Regions from separate parts of the Homo sapiens genome. Here region 2 is linked to region 1. Evidence: fine-mapped expression QTL. Tissue or cell type: whole blood. Region 1 holds a variant in brackets; the other region holds the start of a gene. All regions are shown on one strand. Distances are between the middles of the regions.

What was found. PIP is the estimated chance that this variant, and not a neighbour inherited with it, causes the effect.
Region 2: ITIH4 starts here. The variant in region 1 is fine-mapped to the expression of ITIH4 in whole blood (TOPMed, PIP 0.98).

The regions. Positions count from the first base shown.
Region 1 is chr3:52,910,325-52,918,425 of GRCh38, forward strand. It overlaps SFMBT1 (Scm like with four mbt domains 1), which reads right to left. Exons shown (of 21, transcript NM_016329.4): 14 at 5,826-5,890; 15 at 3,154-3,293; 16 at 2,214-2,323; 17 at 679-854. Among named protein-coding and RNA genes, the nearest start is that of STIMATE-MUSTN1, 17 kb to the left of the region's middle. The variant T/C (reference allele first, on the strand shown) is at 4,382.
Region 2 is chr3:52,827,226-52,835,326 of GRCh38, forward strand. It overlaps ITIH4 (inter-alpha-trypsin inhibitor heavy chain 4), which reads right to left and starts at 3,447. Exons shown (of 24, transcript NM_002218.5): 1 at 3,328-3,447; 2 at 1,894-2,054. The coding sequence starts at 3,417. It overlaps STIMATE-MUSTN1 (STIMATE-MUSTN1 readthrough), which reads right to left. Exons shown (of 10, transcript NM_001198974.3): 9 at 6,392-6,524; 10 at 5,896-6,205. The coding sequence ends at 6,099. MUSTN1 (musculoskeletal, embryonic nuclear protein 1) reads right to left here and starts at 7,794. Exons shown (of 3, transcript NM_205853.4): 1 at 7,715-7,794; 2 at 6,392-6,524; 3 at 5,896-6,205. The coding sequence starts at 7,723. The coding sequence ends at 6,099. RefSeq lists enhancers at 191-799, 800-1,407.

The DNA of each region.
Region 1 (8,101 bases):
CTTGCAGATTGTATGAATGAATTACATATCCTATTAGATACAATAACTAATTTATATACATGCTATATATAAAAGTTGGCACACTAAAGCCCATGAGTCAAGTCTGGCCCATGACCTGTTTTGGTATAGCCCCCAAGCCAAAAATTACCCTTACATTTTTTAAAGGGTTCTTTTTTTTTGGAGACACAGAGTCTCGTTTTGTCACCCAGGCTGGAGTGCAGTGGCGCAATCTCAGCTCACTGCAACCTTCATCTCCCGCTTTCAAGTGATTCTCCTGCCTCAGCCTCCCAAGCAGCTGGGATTACGGGCAGGTGCCACCACACCCAGCTAGTTTTTCTATTTTTAGTAGAGACGGGGTTTCACCATGTTGGCCAGACTGGTCTCGAACTCCTGACCTCAAGTGATCCGCCTGCCTCGGCCTCCCAAAGTGCTGGGATTACAGGCATGAGCCACCACACCCGGCCAAAAGGGTTCTTAAAAAATGAAAACACAACACATAGAAAAAGAATATGTGACAGAAAGCATATGACCCACAACATGAAATATTTATCATCTGGCCCTTTACAGAAGAAGTTCGTGTGCCTCTGCTATATATGAATGTCTGTAAAGTAAAAAACTTTCCAAGATGTAAGGTATGGTCAGCTGCTATGGTTAACACATTGGAAAAACATGACTCACTGTATTTGGTCTTTGTAAGTACAGAACAGTTCTCAGAACACTTATCCAGAACCATCCGTGGACCGAAGAGGTTAGGACAGCATTCCAGTTTGATACAGGTTTGCCGGCAGAATTCAGTCACCCGATCTGCTGTTTTCACTATCTCAACAGTAGCCCGATAACTCTTTCCTTTATATCTGCCATTGGAAGACATCAGATGCCAAATATATTGGGCTAATGATTACCCAGAGAAAAATCAAACATATTAATACACCTAAAAAATATTTTTGCTTCTTGGAATATTCTATGTCCTTTATAGTTCAAGGGCCCTGAAAACAACAAGGAAGTTCTGCATATTGAACTTAAATCAAATTAAATCTGGTAAGCTATGACAACTAAAAGCTGAGTTATTTAAATTAGCAAAATTAAGCTCCTGCTTTCTGTTCCTAAGTTAAGGTTTTCAAATAGTAATTTCACTAACTGCTCTAAAAAGAAAAGTGACTTTTCACTAAGTCTTTCTTTACCCTTGGCAGTGATCCTCAGACTGTTATCCAAGGACCAGTATGACCTGCCAATTGCCTGCCATCCATCCATGACAAGATCAGAAAGCAAGAGTACCTGTTTATAACCTTTCACAGTAATTTGAAAAAGTAATTTTATGTCTCTTACATCTAATAACAAAAATTGTTCTTGCATTTTTATGTCTTAAATTTCTTATTTCCTTTTTGTTTTTGAGATAGAGTCTCGCTCTGTCACCCAGGCTGGATGAAGTGCAGTGGCATGATCTCAGCTCACTGCAACCTCCGCCTCCCAGGTCAAGAGATTCTCCTGCCTCAGCCTCCCAAGTAGCTGGGATTACAGGCACACACCACGACACCTGGCTAATTTTTGTATTTTGAGTAGAGACAGGGTTTCACTATGTTGGCCAGGCTGGTCTTGAACTCCTGACCTCAGGTGATCCGCCCACCTCAGCCTCCCAGAGTGCTAGGATTAGGGGCGTGAGCCACGGTGCCCGGTCTTAAATTTCGTATTTCTTATAATTCATTCTATCATATTTTATAAATGTATTGATCCATGAAAGAATGGAAATCTAAAAAAGAAAAACAAGCCTGGGCCTTCACCACAAATAGCTGAAAAAGCCCTGCCTAAGGAAACATAAGGCTTCTGATATTATCCACAGAACTGATTCTGTGAATTTTTTTTGTTGTTTTTTGTTTGAGACAGAATCTCCCTCTGTCACCCAGGCTACAATGTAGTGGCACGATCTCAGCTCACTGCAACCTCCACCTCCTGGGTTCAAGCAATCCTCCTGCCTCAGCCTCCCAAGTAGCTGGGATTACAGGCGTGTGCACCGTGTCTGGCTAATTTTTGTATTTTTAGTAGAGACAGGGTTTCATCATGTTGACCAGGCTGGTCTTGAACTCCTGACCTTGTGATCCGCCCGCCTCGGCCTCCCAAAGTGCTGGGATTACAGGTGTGAGCCACTGTGCCACGCCGATTCTGTGACTTTTTAAAGACAAGTAAAAGTAAAGAGTAAAAACAAGTAGTCCACTCACTTGGCTTTTAGGACTTCCCCACATCCGTGCCACACAGAGTCTTTGTCCAGCTGGAGCTCCCGAAGGACACGGCTGGGTTTGTAGGCTGCATTGATAAGTAAAGTGAGGACCTGAGCTCAGTTTTAAAGCAGAAACACAGATTGGGAAGGAGAAAAGCAGACCATTAGAATCTTGTCATCTCTTCCTTAAAATGTTAAGATTATTTAGGAGGTTAAATTCTAGTCATATGAATTAACAAATGTTAACAAAATAATAGTATCAGAGATATTACAGCCACCCAAAGGTGCAGATAAGAGAGTAACCAGATCCTTTTCAACATTTTTTAAATGTTACGGTCAGGAAAAAAACAGGTACCATGATTTTCAAATTGCTCCAGAACATGCTTCCAAATGCTTTCCCAGCCACGGTACACACAGAAAATTATATTTGTTTGGACCACTGTGTAGACAGCTGAGCCTTCTTGTGGCTGGAGGAGTCTGGTCCAGACGCTCTGGCTTCCCCAGATCCTGACTTGCCACCCTGAGGGCTGAAAGGTCTCTTATCTGTTACTTGCAGCATATCACACTGGCTGGGAAGAACAGAAAGCCCAGCAGATGTGTAGCTTTATCACGGTCGCTAGGTTAATGCCACATAGCCACGGCCTTTCAGTCATAGAGTAACCTCACAGTTCACTTTTGTATAGTTCTCTTCTGGTCTCTGACAGAAGACCTTTCTACCCTGACAGAGGTGAACCTGCTGTGTGAAGAGTTGTTTACGTGAATGTTTCCTAGGGAGGAGAAATAATTACATACCCTCTTCACTGTCCAAAACATGAGAAAAGTTAGTAACTTTTGATAAAACCTAGAACTGTCACATCTATGGCATGTGGCTCCCTGTAGAAATGACCATAGGAGAATGCTGTGAAATTTCCAAGTTATTTTGCTCTAGGCCAGAACCTTACCTCTCTAAGGACCAGAACACAGTTCCCAGGTCCTACACATTGAGGCAGCTCAGCAATTCTTCCTTTGTTAAGATATGGCCCTGAGAAGCAACGGTGGTTGAAGTATATCTTTGGACAGCAATATTTTCCATTAATCATAACTGGGAAATGAAGAAAAACAAATATTCAAAACAGTCATTCTCTACCCCACGTTTCCAAAGCTGAACTGCCAGGGAAGAAAAACGAAGCACATGTACCATTATATTAATATAAAGTTTGGAATTACTTATTTTGAAGCTTAACATGTTGTCTGAGAATGCTCTTAAGTAACTTACAGAGCTTATCACTCTGCTGAAATCAAAGAGGGTCCTGAATTAACATGCTGATTAGTTCCTAGGTTACTGCAAAATTGATAGAAGAACCCTATCTTCTATTAATAAAGAAAGTGGAGGGTGTATTTTAAGAACACATGAGGATTCTGGATGATCAATGATTTCTTTTCCAGGTCTTCAAAAACCAACTTTCAATCATCTATTCTGGAATATTTATAGAAATTGTTGAATATTATTGAGAATTAGTTTGTCTCCTAAAAACCACCAAACTAATATGTTGGCAGCCTTTGATGTTGTGAGAGCAATCCCATCTCTGAGATTTCTCAGAGGGCTAAAAGTATGCTGTGACCACATCTCTAAGTTTTTTTTGTACTGTGGGGTATAACTGGGTCTGGAGACCCTTTTCTTCAACTATTTGTCTGTATCAATACTGTCCTTCAATTTAATGTTTTTAAAAAATCCCCTCATAGTGGTAGGCATGTCAGCTGTTGAATGTAAAAAATTCAAAGACACTAAAATACTGCTATAAAGCACAGAGAAGCTCTTCTAATAGATATGCCTGTTAATCCAATGTTAAGGAAAGATATGCGCACACTGCCCATTGTTGATAGGATCCTGCAGTTCATAATGTTTTCTCTTTAATTAAGAATAGTCACAGCCAGGTGTTGTGGCTCATGCCCGTAATCCCAGCAATTTGGGAGGCCAACGGGGGAGCACATCGCTTGAGTCCAGTTTGAGACCAGCCTGGGTAACACAGTGAAGCCCCATCTCTACAAAAAACAAAAACAAAAACAAAAACAAAAAAATCAGCCACATGTGGTGGCATATGCCTGTAGTCCCAGCTACTCGGGAGGCTGATGTAGGAGGACAGCTTGAGCCCAGGAGGTGGAGGTTGCAGTGAGCTGATATCACTGCAC[T/C]GCACTCCAGCCTGGATGACACAGCGAGACCCTGTCTCAAAACAAAACAAAACAAAAAAACGATGGTCTATCATAGTGGCCAGTATGCTGGTGCTCACATTTCCAGTTGAACCCTGCAACCCAAATGCCTCTTTTCAGAATTAAGGCACTCATACCCCTGCTGCTGGGTATGTTGGCAGCTTACAGTTCCCAGTTTTATGTCTATTCTGGAATCACCCTGAACTGGGTACTGCTCTCAGCAGGAGAGGGCCACCTTGCCCCTTGTGAGGTGGGGAGGGAGCAGTGGCTTACTTCCAATAACTGGTCAGTAAAGTGTGGCCACCACACCTGAATTAGGATCAACTCTGAGTGGTTAGATCAGCTTCAGGGCTCCCAGTGGAACTAGAAGAAACTTCTGTTGCAACTGCATCATGGTTCAACTTATCTCTCTGCCCAATCCTACTTCCTTTACTCCTTCTAAGGAGCTGTTCCCAAAAATACTCCCCAATGAAACTCCTGAATGCATATGTCAGAGTCTCAGACTCTGTTTCCCAGGGAACCTGACCTATGACAAAACCCAAACCAAAAGGCCTTGGCTGAGGTTGTGCAGAAGATATTAATGTCTTAAATTCTGTGGTTTCAGTAGGCATTCGAATGGCCAGGAAAGCATCAAAAGCAAGGAGTTACACAGTCCTAACCCTCTATGTACAAATGATGTAATGAAAAGGCAGTAGGTACAAGAGACGGAAGTACGGGTTTCTAATTTGTGAAAGACTTCAGTTTCATTTCTGGTCTTTCTACTCATAAGCTGTGTGATCTCTCTGAGCTTCGATTTCTCTTCTAGGCATTTACTAAATATCACCCAAATGCGCAATCTGTGCTAGAATACACACAGCCAGGATGCTAAACATTACACAACAAGCACGTGGAAGTTAAGAATAGTTCAAGAGAGGACCCTGGACAAAAGGCTTGAACCTCCAGCAAGGATTTTTCTCTCATTTATCAGGCATTAATTGCCTCTGGGACAATTTCTTTTTCCATTGCTTTATTTTTTTCACATAAACTGTGAAATTTATATACAAAGTATGCATATCATAAAAAAGGGTTTTAAAAAGAATAAACTTCTACCTCTCAACCATCTAGCTTAAGAAAGAACACTGCCTGGAAAACTTCAGGTTCTTTAGCTAAAGTCAAGGATGGTAACATTGGCCTTCTGAGCCGTTGGCACACAACGGTTGATCAGTAAAGAATAGCTACAATTATTAGAAATGGACGGAACTATCAGCCTAGAGATGATTATTAAACTAAACACATCTTAGACAGTTATAACTCTAAAGTCACAATTAAGAGACCCCTCTATGAAGACACATACTATACATCAAATGTACTGTTTTAAGTTATTTTCAGATATAGTCCATTAAAAGAAACTAAGTCTTCTTTTCCTTAAGATGACATGTGCTTATACCTGACTCTGTGGAGTTCAGCTCCTGATTCCTCAGGCCCTCGTGGACAGTCCTCGAGGATGGTACTCTGGGTCAAGAAAACACAGTAAAATAGTGAGATAATTCTTAAGATCAGTAAAGTGTGAGGCTTAGTTTCCTTCAAATCTAAGAAGAAAGCAAATGTGGCATGTTCGCAAAATCTGTAACAGAAGGTACTCCCTTGATGATACTTTTTTTTTTTTTTTTTTTTTTTAAAAGAACAAGGCTGGATGCGGTGGCTCACGCGTAATCCCAGCACTTTGGGAGGCTGACGTGGGCGGGTCACAAGGTCAGGAGATTGAGACCATCCTGGCTAACACTGTGAAACCCCGTCTCTACTAAAAATACAAAAAATTAGCTGGGCATGGTGGCAGGCACCTGTAGTCCCAGCTACTAAGGAGGCTGAGGGAGGAGAATGGCGTGAACCCAGGAGGCAGAGCTTGCAGTGAGCCGAGATCGTGCCACTGCACTCCAGCCTAGGCAACAAAGCAGGACTCTGTGTCAAAAAAACCAAACAACAACAACAACAACAACAACAACAAAAAACTACAACAACAAAAAAGAACAATTGTTTTTAAAACTATATATAGGGCATAATGAGCCAATGGACAGTCTGTATATAGCATTGTGATACTACATGTTCAAACTTTCTCTTCATTCACTGGGCAAAAAAATTACAAAATTTCTTGTGAGATGCTTAAATCACAAATAAACTACTCATTTTTCAACAGTCAAAGAACAGAAACTTTATATAGGGTTCGTTTTCTTCGTCCATCAGTTTTCAAATTAAAGACAAATTATGTTATTTAAAAAAAAACAGAGGCTTATTCTGTATGTAGCAATCACTGAAAAAAGGCTAATTTATCTTTTAGAATGCATCCTAACTAAAGCTTTGGATCAGTTTTGGCAACTAAGTCAAGGAAAAATCCAAGGTCAGTCTTTTTTTTCATTGTTACCTCACTTCTCTACTTGGTATAAATGTCTATGGCCTTTCTCTCCACTTCTGTTGTTAGTTTTATTACCCACATAGTTACAAAGGTTTAGGTAGTTATAGAATTTGCTATATACAGAATTGTTTCCTCCTACTCAAATTCATATGTTGAAGCCCTAGTGCTCAGTGTAACTGTATTCGAAGATAGGGCCTTGGGGAAGTAATTAAGATTAAATGAGGTCATAAGGGTAGGCTATAATCCAATAGCATTGATAGCCTTACAGGAAGAGAGGGGTCGGGGGGTGCCGGGGAGAGAAAGATTTTTCCACCATGCAAGGACACAGCCAGAAGACAGCCATCTGCTAGCCAGGGAGAATGCCCTCACTAGGAAGCAATCTACCAGCACCTTGATCTTGGATTTTCCAGCCTCCAGAATGTAAGAAAATAAATTTCTGTGGTTTAAAGCAGGGGTCCCCAACCCCAGGGCCACGGACCAGTACCCGTCTATGGCCTGTTAGGAATGGGGCCGCACAGCAGGCAAGGGAGCATTACGGCCTGAGCTCGGCCTCCTGTCACATCAGCAGCAGCATTAGATTCTCACAGGAGTGTGAACCCCATTGTGAACTGTGCATGTGAGGGATCTAGATTGCATGCCCCTTAGGATAATCTAATGCCTGATGATCTGAGGTGGAACAGTTTCATCCCAAAACCATTCCCCACCCCAGTCTGTAGAAAAACTGTCTTCCACGAAACCGGTCCCTGGTGCCAAAAACGTTGGGGACCGCTGGTTTAAAGCCACCGAGCCTGTGGTATTTTGTATGGCAGCCCCAGCAGATTAATAGAGAATTCAACACCCAATGTTTTAAAACACACATATACACACAGAAACATTTGTACTTTTAAGGTTTGAAGGCACTACTAATTAACTGTTTCTCAAAAGCTGTGTGTGCAGGTATGTTACAAACGAAGAATTTCTTGATGGGCACAAAGCCACTCCTTTGAATGTGCCTTTTCTTTTAGAGCTGTCTTCTACCCCAGCTTTATTTTTTTCCACTGTGACAAATCATACCCTAATTTACAATTTTTGCTCTTCCTTAATGAATACCAGCATGGGCACTCTTATTTTCTTTCTTTTATTCAACTATCTTAAGGCTCTAAAAGCCAAAGAAAACTCAATTTAGACACCATCTTGAGAATGCATTTTACCCTTTTGTATATAATGCCATTTTAGAAAATGCATATACTGCAAAGAGAAGTATACAAATGATCAAATGTTGAATTAAAAAATTATGCTTCCATCTGAGAAAATGAGGAAATATACCCTCTGAA
Region 2 (8,101 bases), 83 kb before region 1:
GAGCCTGGTGGCAGGGGCCCATTCCACTCCTGCCTCCTCCAGAGAGCCTTTCTGGACTCGGTGTGCCTCTTGACACAGTGACTCCCATCTTTGCCTGAGCCCAGTGCCATTTATTATGCACCTACCGCATACAGGACCCTGTGCAGGGCACTCTGCAAAGTGCTCCAGGCCTCTAGCTCCCGGAGGTGTGTACAGTAACAGTAAGCATTCATTTTATAGAAGGGACGAAGGGGAGGCTGCAGAGGGGCAGGGCCGGGCTAAATCCTGCCTTCTCTCCACCTGTCCAGTCTGGCCGAAGCTGGCCCACATTCCCACCTGCCCCTTCCATTTCACGGACTGTTCCAGGGGAACTAGTTCATCACCAGCAAGAGCTCTCTGAGTCACACTTGTTCCCAGCCCTGCGTGCAGCCGTGTGGGGCCAGGACTGAGGAGGAAGCAGACGTAGGGCTGGAGGCTCTGAGCACTTTCCCCCTACAGCAGTCTCCCCGCTCCCTCCCACAAGAGGCAGGCACCCTATAGGGAGGCTGGCATATCTGGAAGGAGGTTTTGGACAACTGGTGGACGGGACTCCTGGGTGTGTGGACACACTCCTAGCAGCCATCCTTTGGGGGCTGAGAAAGAATGGCCCAGGCCATTTCTCAGGGAGGAAAACGACTTTTTCAGAGCCTCCTTGTGGGGTGTGTAGGGATGTGCCTGGTCAACTTCATGTGGTAGTGTGTGGCAGTGGGCAGGAGGGGGAGCAGCCAGGATGTCAGGACTACGCGTCCCTCCTGCCTGACCTTCCTGGTTATAATTTAACTCTAGCCCGGGATGGGGCTGGTGAGTGGGCAGTGGCACTCCTCCCCCTGGGTAGGCAGTGCTTCATCTCTCCAGATGGCCAGCTGGGGCTCCTGGCCAGGTCAGGGAGCAGGGAACCTGCTCTCTGCTCCCCTAACTCATGCAGCAACAGGTTCTGGGTCTAGAGAAGGCAAGTGACAGTCTTGGGCTCTCAGCAGATGCCACGGGCCTGGACCTGGCAACTGCTGACCCTGGCACCCATGTCGAAGGCTGACACAGCCCGTGGGGCTTGCACTGCAAGCTGGGCAGCATAGGCCCGGGCTCTGGGTTAGGAAAAGTAGAGGCTGCGGTGGAGTGGGGGATGCTTGGCGCCTGAGGGAGGAGACTAGCCCCCACTGCAGTTTTCCAGAGGCCACAGTGTGGGACCCCACATGAGACACTCCCTCTCTGCCCCACCATCGCCCTGTTTCTGGGAAGAGTCTTGCCCTTGTCCTAAATCACAGCTTTTCCTGGCAGCAAGGGACAGGCGGCATCCTGGTGCATTTAGTAAACATTGGAAACTGAGTTGGGAAGGGTAGGGGAGGGTGGCAGAGGACAAAGTGAGGACCATCCTTGGCTCATAGAATTCAGAGAAACCTCAGGCATCTCTCACGCAGCCTGAGCAAAAATGTCCTCTGCAGGATCCCAGCTGGGGCAGACCTAGGAGAATCCTCCTCAAGCCACTCTCCACTGTGAGGAAGCCAAGGGTCTAGAAGGTTTTCTGTACTTTGAGCTGGAATGTGCATTTTGGTGACTCCCTCTTGCCTGGTCTGGCCTCAGGAGGCCTCAAGTCTGTGCTCCTCAAAGGCAAAGTCACAAAGATTCTGTGGTTCTCTGCCTAACACCTGGACAGCACTTAGGGATGATGAATGGCTGGATGGAGGGAAGGACGGGGGCATCTTTGAGAATAAGTCCTTTGGCAAGCCCCTGTTCCTGTGTGGCCCCAGGTGCAGGGTGTACTCCTGAAGATGTACACCCTGGCATGCCTTACTTCAAGAAGAGGGTTTGCTGGCACAGAGCGATGGAGTCATAGCACTGGGGGGTGTGGAGAGGGGAGGAGGGTGGGAAGGCACCTACATGGAGAAGTTGGTGATGAAGGCTTTCTTGGGCAGCTCCATCTGGAAGGTGGCCTCCTGCACAGTATTGGCCCTATTGACCACTCGGCTGGTGACGACCGTGTGGGCAAATCGGGATGAGACCCTGGAGTCCACGGTGAGGCTGTAGATGTCGATGCCATTCTGGACCAGCAAAGAAGAAGGGGGTTGCAGGGTTTCAATGCCACCTCAGCTCGGGGTGACGCTCTTCAAGAGTTGGCCCTGACTCTGGCTCTAGACCAAACCCTGGCTCCCAATCTGACTGAGCCACTGACCAGGCCTCAGGCTGAACCCAGTGAGGCATCTCATATGTGAACATTTGTCTCAGGTAAGAGATAGCAGTGTGCTTCATTCCCCACCCTACAGCACCACAGGGCAGGGGCCACGTCCTTCTTGATCTATAGGGGCCCAGAGCACCCCTTGGAGAAGAACAAGCATGCAGGGGGTGGAGCTGGTGAAGCCAGGGCCAGTGTCTGGGAGGGGCATCACACTCAGCCTTTGGGCAGGGGTGAGAGACCTGGTGGGGTCAGGGAGCTTTGCATGCTGGCTTAGCTTTGCCCAGAAAAAGGGCAGTGACCAGGTCCTTTGATTTCTGGAGACTTTGGCCTCTGTGGCAACAGGGAAGCTCCCACCAGTCTCCTAGAAGGAAGCCCTCAGAGCTGGGAGAATTCGGAGGTAGACTAGAGTCTGGTCTCTGAGAGTTGGGAATCTTCCTCTCTGCTCCGCAGTGGACCCTCCCCAACTCATCCCCACTTCCGCAGGGCACTCCCCTAGCAGGTGCCATTTGCCTTGAGGTCTGTGTCCCCCGAGGAGGGGCACACGGGCACCTCTTACCTGCTTGTGTGTGACATGCTCATGCGCACTGCACCAACTCTGCTCGGCTGCATGCGGCTGCCTGAATGCAGTTTGGCACAGAGGTGCCAAGTGGCTTGTTTATGTGCTTGGGTATTTGCTCTGCGACAAGCACTGTCCTAAGCACTTCATAGATACAATGGGTTTGGTTTTCACAACAAGCACTGTCCTAAGCACTTTATAGATACAATGGGTTTGGTTTTCACAACCGCCACCCTCTGAATAGGTTCTAGTATTACCCTGTTTTACAGATGAGGAAATTGAGACATAGTCAGCATAAATCATTCTCCTGAGGTCACTTACTAAAAGGCGGTAGAGCCAGGCTTGTAAAACTGTATTTCCTCATTTGGAAAATGGAAATGATTGGATCATCCCCTCTATTAGGTGGGAGAATACCAGTAAGGCCCTTGGGGTAGTGCCTGGCGGGAGGTCTGCACCATTTTTTTGCACACACAGGGATGCACACGCACTTGTGCTGACACGCTGGCACATGCGGAGGCTCTTCCCCACTTCCCAGGCGTTCTCTCATCCCCCAGCTCACGCCACACCCATGGACACTGGCTACCTTTTCGGCAGTAGTAGTCTGGTGGATGGCCAGCAGTGAAAGCAGGACGAGAACTTTGCTGCAGGTACGGACAGGCCTTGGGGGCTTCATCGTGGCTCCAGTGTCTGCCAGGAGGCTTCTGAACTCGACAGCAAGTGGGGAATGGATTAGTAACTTGTTTGCTGCCCCACCCACATGGGGGCAGGTTCTGGGAAATTGGGATCTACAAGCCAAAAACCACAGTGACCTCAGATAAGCAAATGACGAACGTCCCATGGACCTTGGCTGGGGGCAGGAATGTATACCAAAGAAAGGTAGGCTCAGTTTGGAGTGGGGGTACATGCCCCTTCTGAAAAGTGCGAAACCTTCACCAGGACCCTTCACACCAGGCATTCCACCAAGCTCCACAGGGCTGGGAGGGAATTGACAGTGAAGATGTCAGTCTGCTCTCCCTAAGTCCAGCCCGGGGAGAAACAGCGGGGGATGGTGGGGAAGACTAGGGCTACAGGGCTACCCTAGCGGCTTCCCGGAAGAAGGGGGCTTGGCCACCAGGTAAGTGTGTCTGGCTGATGGGAGGGCCCAAAGGCATGGAGTGACTCTGGGAGGTGTCTGTGTGGGGCAGATCTAGAGTCAGGATAGATACGCCGTATTTCTGAAGTGAGAGGTGCTGGGCACGGGGCGCCTCCTTCTCTCTCCTGGGGTCCCAGGTTGCTGTTTGGGTGCCATTAATCTAGCCAGGGCTTTAGGTTCAACCCCAGCAAGGCCCCCAAAACAAGAATGGCAATACAACTGAGTCATAAACCTGCCACATCCTGTGGCACAGAGGTCTCCATGCGGGGAGTTTATTGACAGAAGAGCATGGAACAGAAGACAGACCTGACAGTGCCAGCAGCTCCTGAGGGGTGACTGGGGAGTCATTTGGTGGAGCAGAGGGAGCCCAGGAATCGCTGGTTGAGAGAGGGCAGAATGCTGTTGTCATGAGCAGTGTGATGCTGCCACAGCCCAGACCCAGGGGAGCGCTGCCCAAAGGCCTGGGGTGGGTCCCGGCCTTGCTAAAGTTGAAGCGCTCTGCTCCTTGTAAAGTGGGATCGAGTGAGTACATATTATGCGCTCTGGGCACCGCTGGGGCTCGTGTTCCCTGGTGGCTCTGGGGAAGCCAGCTCCTGAGTCTGTGGCCACAGATGGGTAAAGATGAGTCATAAAAGTGTGGCCAGATGCCAAGTCCTGGATCAGGGAAGGACGGCGGCTCCGTGACACCAGCCCTGAGGGGGCCAGCTGCCTTGGGAACCTATCGGGGGCCTTGGGGCAGCCAGTGGCTTCCAGAGGCTGGGGAGGGTTTCTCCACCAGTCCTGTCTCCATTAGAGGTGGCGGCAGGCCTGGGGCAAAGGTGCCATAGACTGGAGCTATTTCTACAGCTGCAAGGAAGACGTTCCCCTTCCTTAGCATGACTGGCCAGAAGCCTCATCTCTGCGCACGTCTCCACTGCTCACCCTTTTGGCTCTGGATACGATTGGGATTACACAGGGGAACACGCTCCTTTCAGTGTCTGGGGGAAGAGTCTCCCCATGGAGTCCAGCAAGTAGGACTGGGCCCTTCCTCACAGCAGGGCTGCTCCCTTGGGGCAGAGAGCACAGGCCCAGCCCGGACTCAGGGCTATATAAGGTGGCCAGGCTGGCCGGGACTGTGGGAAACGTTCTGGGCAGCCAGAACCTCCTGGGACAGGAAGGCATCCCCAGCAGGCATCAGCCCCGAGCCAGGCACCACAAGCCCAGGCTCTGCCAGTCCAGCTCCGAAAAGAGCCACTGTCAGCCTGTCCATGGTCATGGTCTTGCCATCACAACGGGACAGGCCTCTATGGGTCTTTTGAACCTGGCACTTCCAGGCACACAGGGGACAGAGGACTGGAGAGAGAAGGGTCATGCAGGCTGAGAATCTGGTGTTCCATGCCCCAGACAGCATGGTTGGAGCAGAATGTGGGAGTCTTACCCCTGCTGTTTGGAAGAGACGGTAGCTCAGGAAACTGACTGCCAGAGAGGAATCTCAATCTGGCTCTGACTTGGAGGGGACAAAAGCCGGGAGGAGGCAGTGTGAACAAAAGTGTAGGGAGGGAGAGGGGTTTTGAGGTCCCTAGTGCAGTGCAGGGAGAGGGGTTTTGAGGTCCCTAGTGCAGTGCAGGGAGAGGGGTTTTGAGGTCCCTAGTGCAGTGCAGGGAGAGGGGTTTTTGAGGTCCCTAGGTGCTGCAGAGCCTGCAGGTCCTCAGAGGCTTCTCAGCAGCTTCTGTGGAAGGCAGGAGGAGAGGTGGTCCCTGAGACCCCACCCACTTCACTCTGAGCAGTGTCATCATGGCCTGCTTTATGGAATAGACTCCAGCTCAACTCCCCTGTAGTATAAAAGGGGAAACTGAGGCTCAGAAAAGTCTGAAGTCACAGGTCAGCACTGAGTCTCCATGTCCAAGGCAGCATGTGGCAGTGCCCATAATAGCACCTGTGCTATCCCCTGGGATCCTCTTAAACGGACATGTTCCATGTTCCCACCCTGTCCTCCCTCTCAATAGTGGCCATAGCCAGGGACCAACCAACACCTTCTGATTGCTGGGGCCACGTGGGCATCCTCTTTATTGGTGCTTCCAAGGTGCTGGTGCAGAGCCCTTGGCTGAAGGGCCTGGACTGTGGGGGAGGGTGGCAGCCCCAGAGACAGCAGGGGAGAGGAAGCGTTCTGGCATAAAAAAGAGTTCCTGGGAAAGGCTCCTGTTTCCGAGCATTCGGGCAGCAAGGGGAGTGGCGCACACTTCTCAGCCGAAGACACTCTTGGTGGGTCCGGCTTTGGGCTTCTCAAAGACAGTCTCGGTACCTGTGCGGGTGCGGCTGAACACCGACGGGGCGGCCGAGCCAGCTTGCTCTGTGGGAGGAGGTAAAGTCAGGGGCCAGCCTAGCTTCCTGGGAGGGAAGATCCCTTACGATGGGAGCACCTTTCTTGAACCCAGGAATACTGGATTCTCAGAAAAGGATCCTTGACCACCTCCCCCCACCACTGACACACACCTGCACCCCCATCCCCAGCCCCAGATGGCATGAGGACACTCACCACACTCTCGCATGACCTGGTAGGTCTTGGACTTGATTTCCTGGTTCTTGGTCAGGTTTCCTCGGGCCCCCTTCAGGTCCTCGTCCTTCACAGGGGGGCGCTTCTTCTTGATAGGGGCTTCCTGAGCACCAGCCTTGGAGATCCAAGAGCCTCATCTTACTACCTGAAGCCTCGGTAGAAAGGCACACCTACCTCTGTGCCTTGGCCAAGACCCCTCTTCTCTGCTCATTAAACCCAAGCCTATTCAAGGCTCTACTCCTCTTCCAGAGAAAGCCTTCCCAACTATACTCCACCTGCTGCAGGTCTCCCAGCTGTCTTGGTCTGACTTGCCCATGTGCCTTTCCCCTATAGCCTGGGAGCTCTTGGGAGCAGTGGCTGCTGCAGCCTCACACTGGCGTGTCTGGCTACCTGGTCAAGCTCAGGACTGGGCACAGTGGGGAACAGCGAAGGGGACTAGCTCTGAGGTTGGGCAATACTAGGGAATTTGGTTAGTTCCAAAACCTGTTCACTGGGTGGCAAGCGGTTCCTCAAGGATTGCCCCCTTCCAGAAAAGCGCCACTATTTACTTTGTGTCTTTGGGGCTGGAAATGGGGTAGAAGGGCCAGATGCCCACAGAATTACAGTCCAAAATGGCCACCCACCCACAGAGCAGGCAGCAAGGACAGTCCTCTCTCTTGGCAGGCTGGTCTGTCCCTCCAGGGTGGGGGACACCCAGGCTCGGTGTTTACCCTACCCCTCAACCCCAGGCGCCTGTGAGTCTGAGACCTGCCTGTGCTTGGGTGCAGGTGCAGGTATTTCCTCGCTCAGCCTGGGCCAGGCTCCTCAGAGCAACACACTATACCCCTGTACAGCGATGCATCCAGCTGTGTCCCTCCAGCCTCATGTGCACACACATACAGCTTCATGCATATACCATACACAGAGACAGACAGACCTATGTGTGTGGCCACACACAGAGTGCATGGCTGCCGGGCCCATAGCTACAAATGCACAAAGCTCTACACACTGAGCTATATCGGCAGCACACACACAGATGCGCACACACACACACACACACACAGGCACATGCAAAGATCTATCTAGGCCCCCCCCACCCCCAACATTTCTCTCCACTCCTCCTAACAAACCGTGGAATACCACCAAAGCCACATAGAAGAGGGGTTCTTCAGGGGGTCCTCCCTGAGCCCCCATCTCCCAAGGGCTGCAGAGCCTCCAGTTCATGCTTGGGGCTCAGATCAAGACACAGCTGCCAGAGCCGAAAGTGTCCAGGACTCCACCTCCACTCCCTCTGGCATCAACACAGCCCTTGCTGGGTCCTCCTACCTGGGACATGGTGGGTATTGTGTAAGCGCTGGGTCTCTGAAGGCGCCTCTCTGGCAGGCAGCAGCTGCTGGAAAAGATCTGAGTGGAGCCCAGCCTTCTGAAACTTATATAGCCTGCTTGCTTGTCCCGCAGAGTCACTGCCCCTCCTCTGACAGGCTCCCTGATGATTCAGGTCCGCAGGGTCGCTGGCTTCAGAGTTTATTCTCGGAGATGAGAGGGGCTCCCAGTACTGCTGCCTGGGGGCTGCAGCCCTGATGAAAGCAGATGGCTGCAGAGACCCTTTGCCCTCTGGGACAGCTGCTTGATTCGCCGGGGGGAGGTGCTGGCACTGACGGACATGCTTTGTGTTTACGGATTTGGGTCCTGGAATGTGTGACCATCTGAATT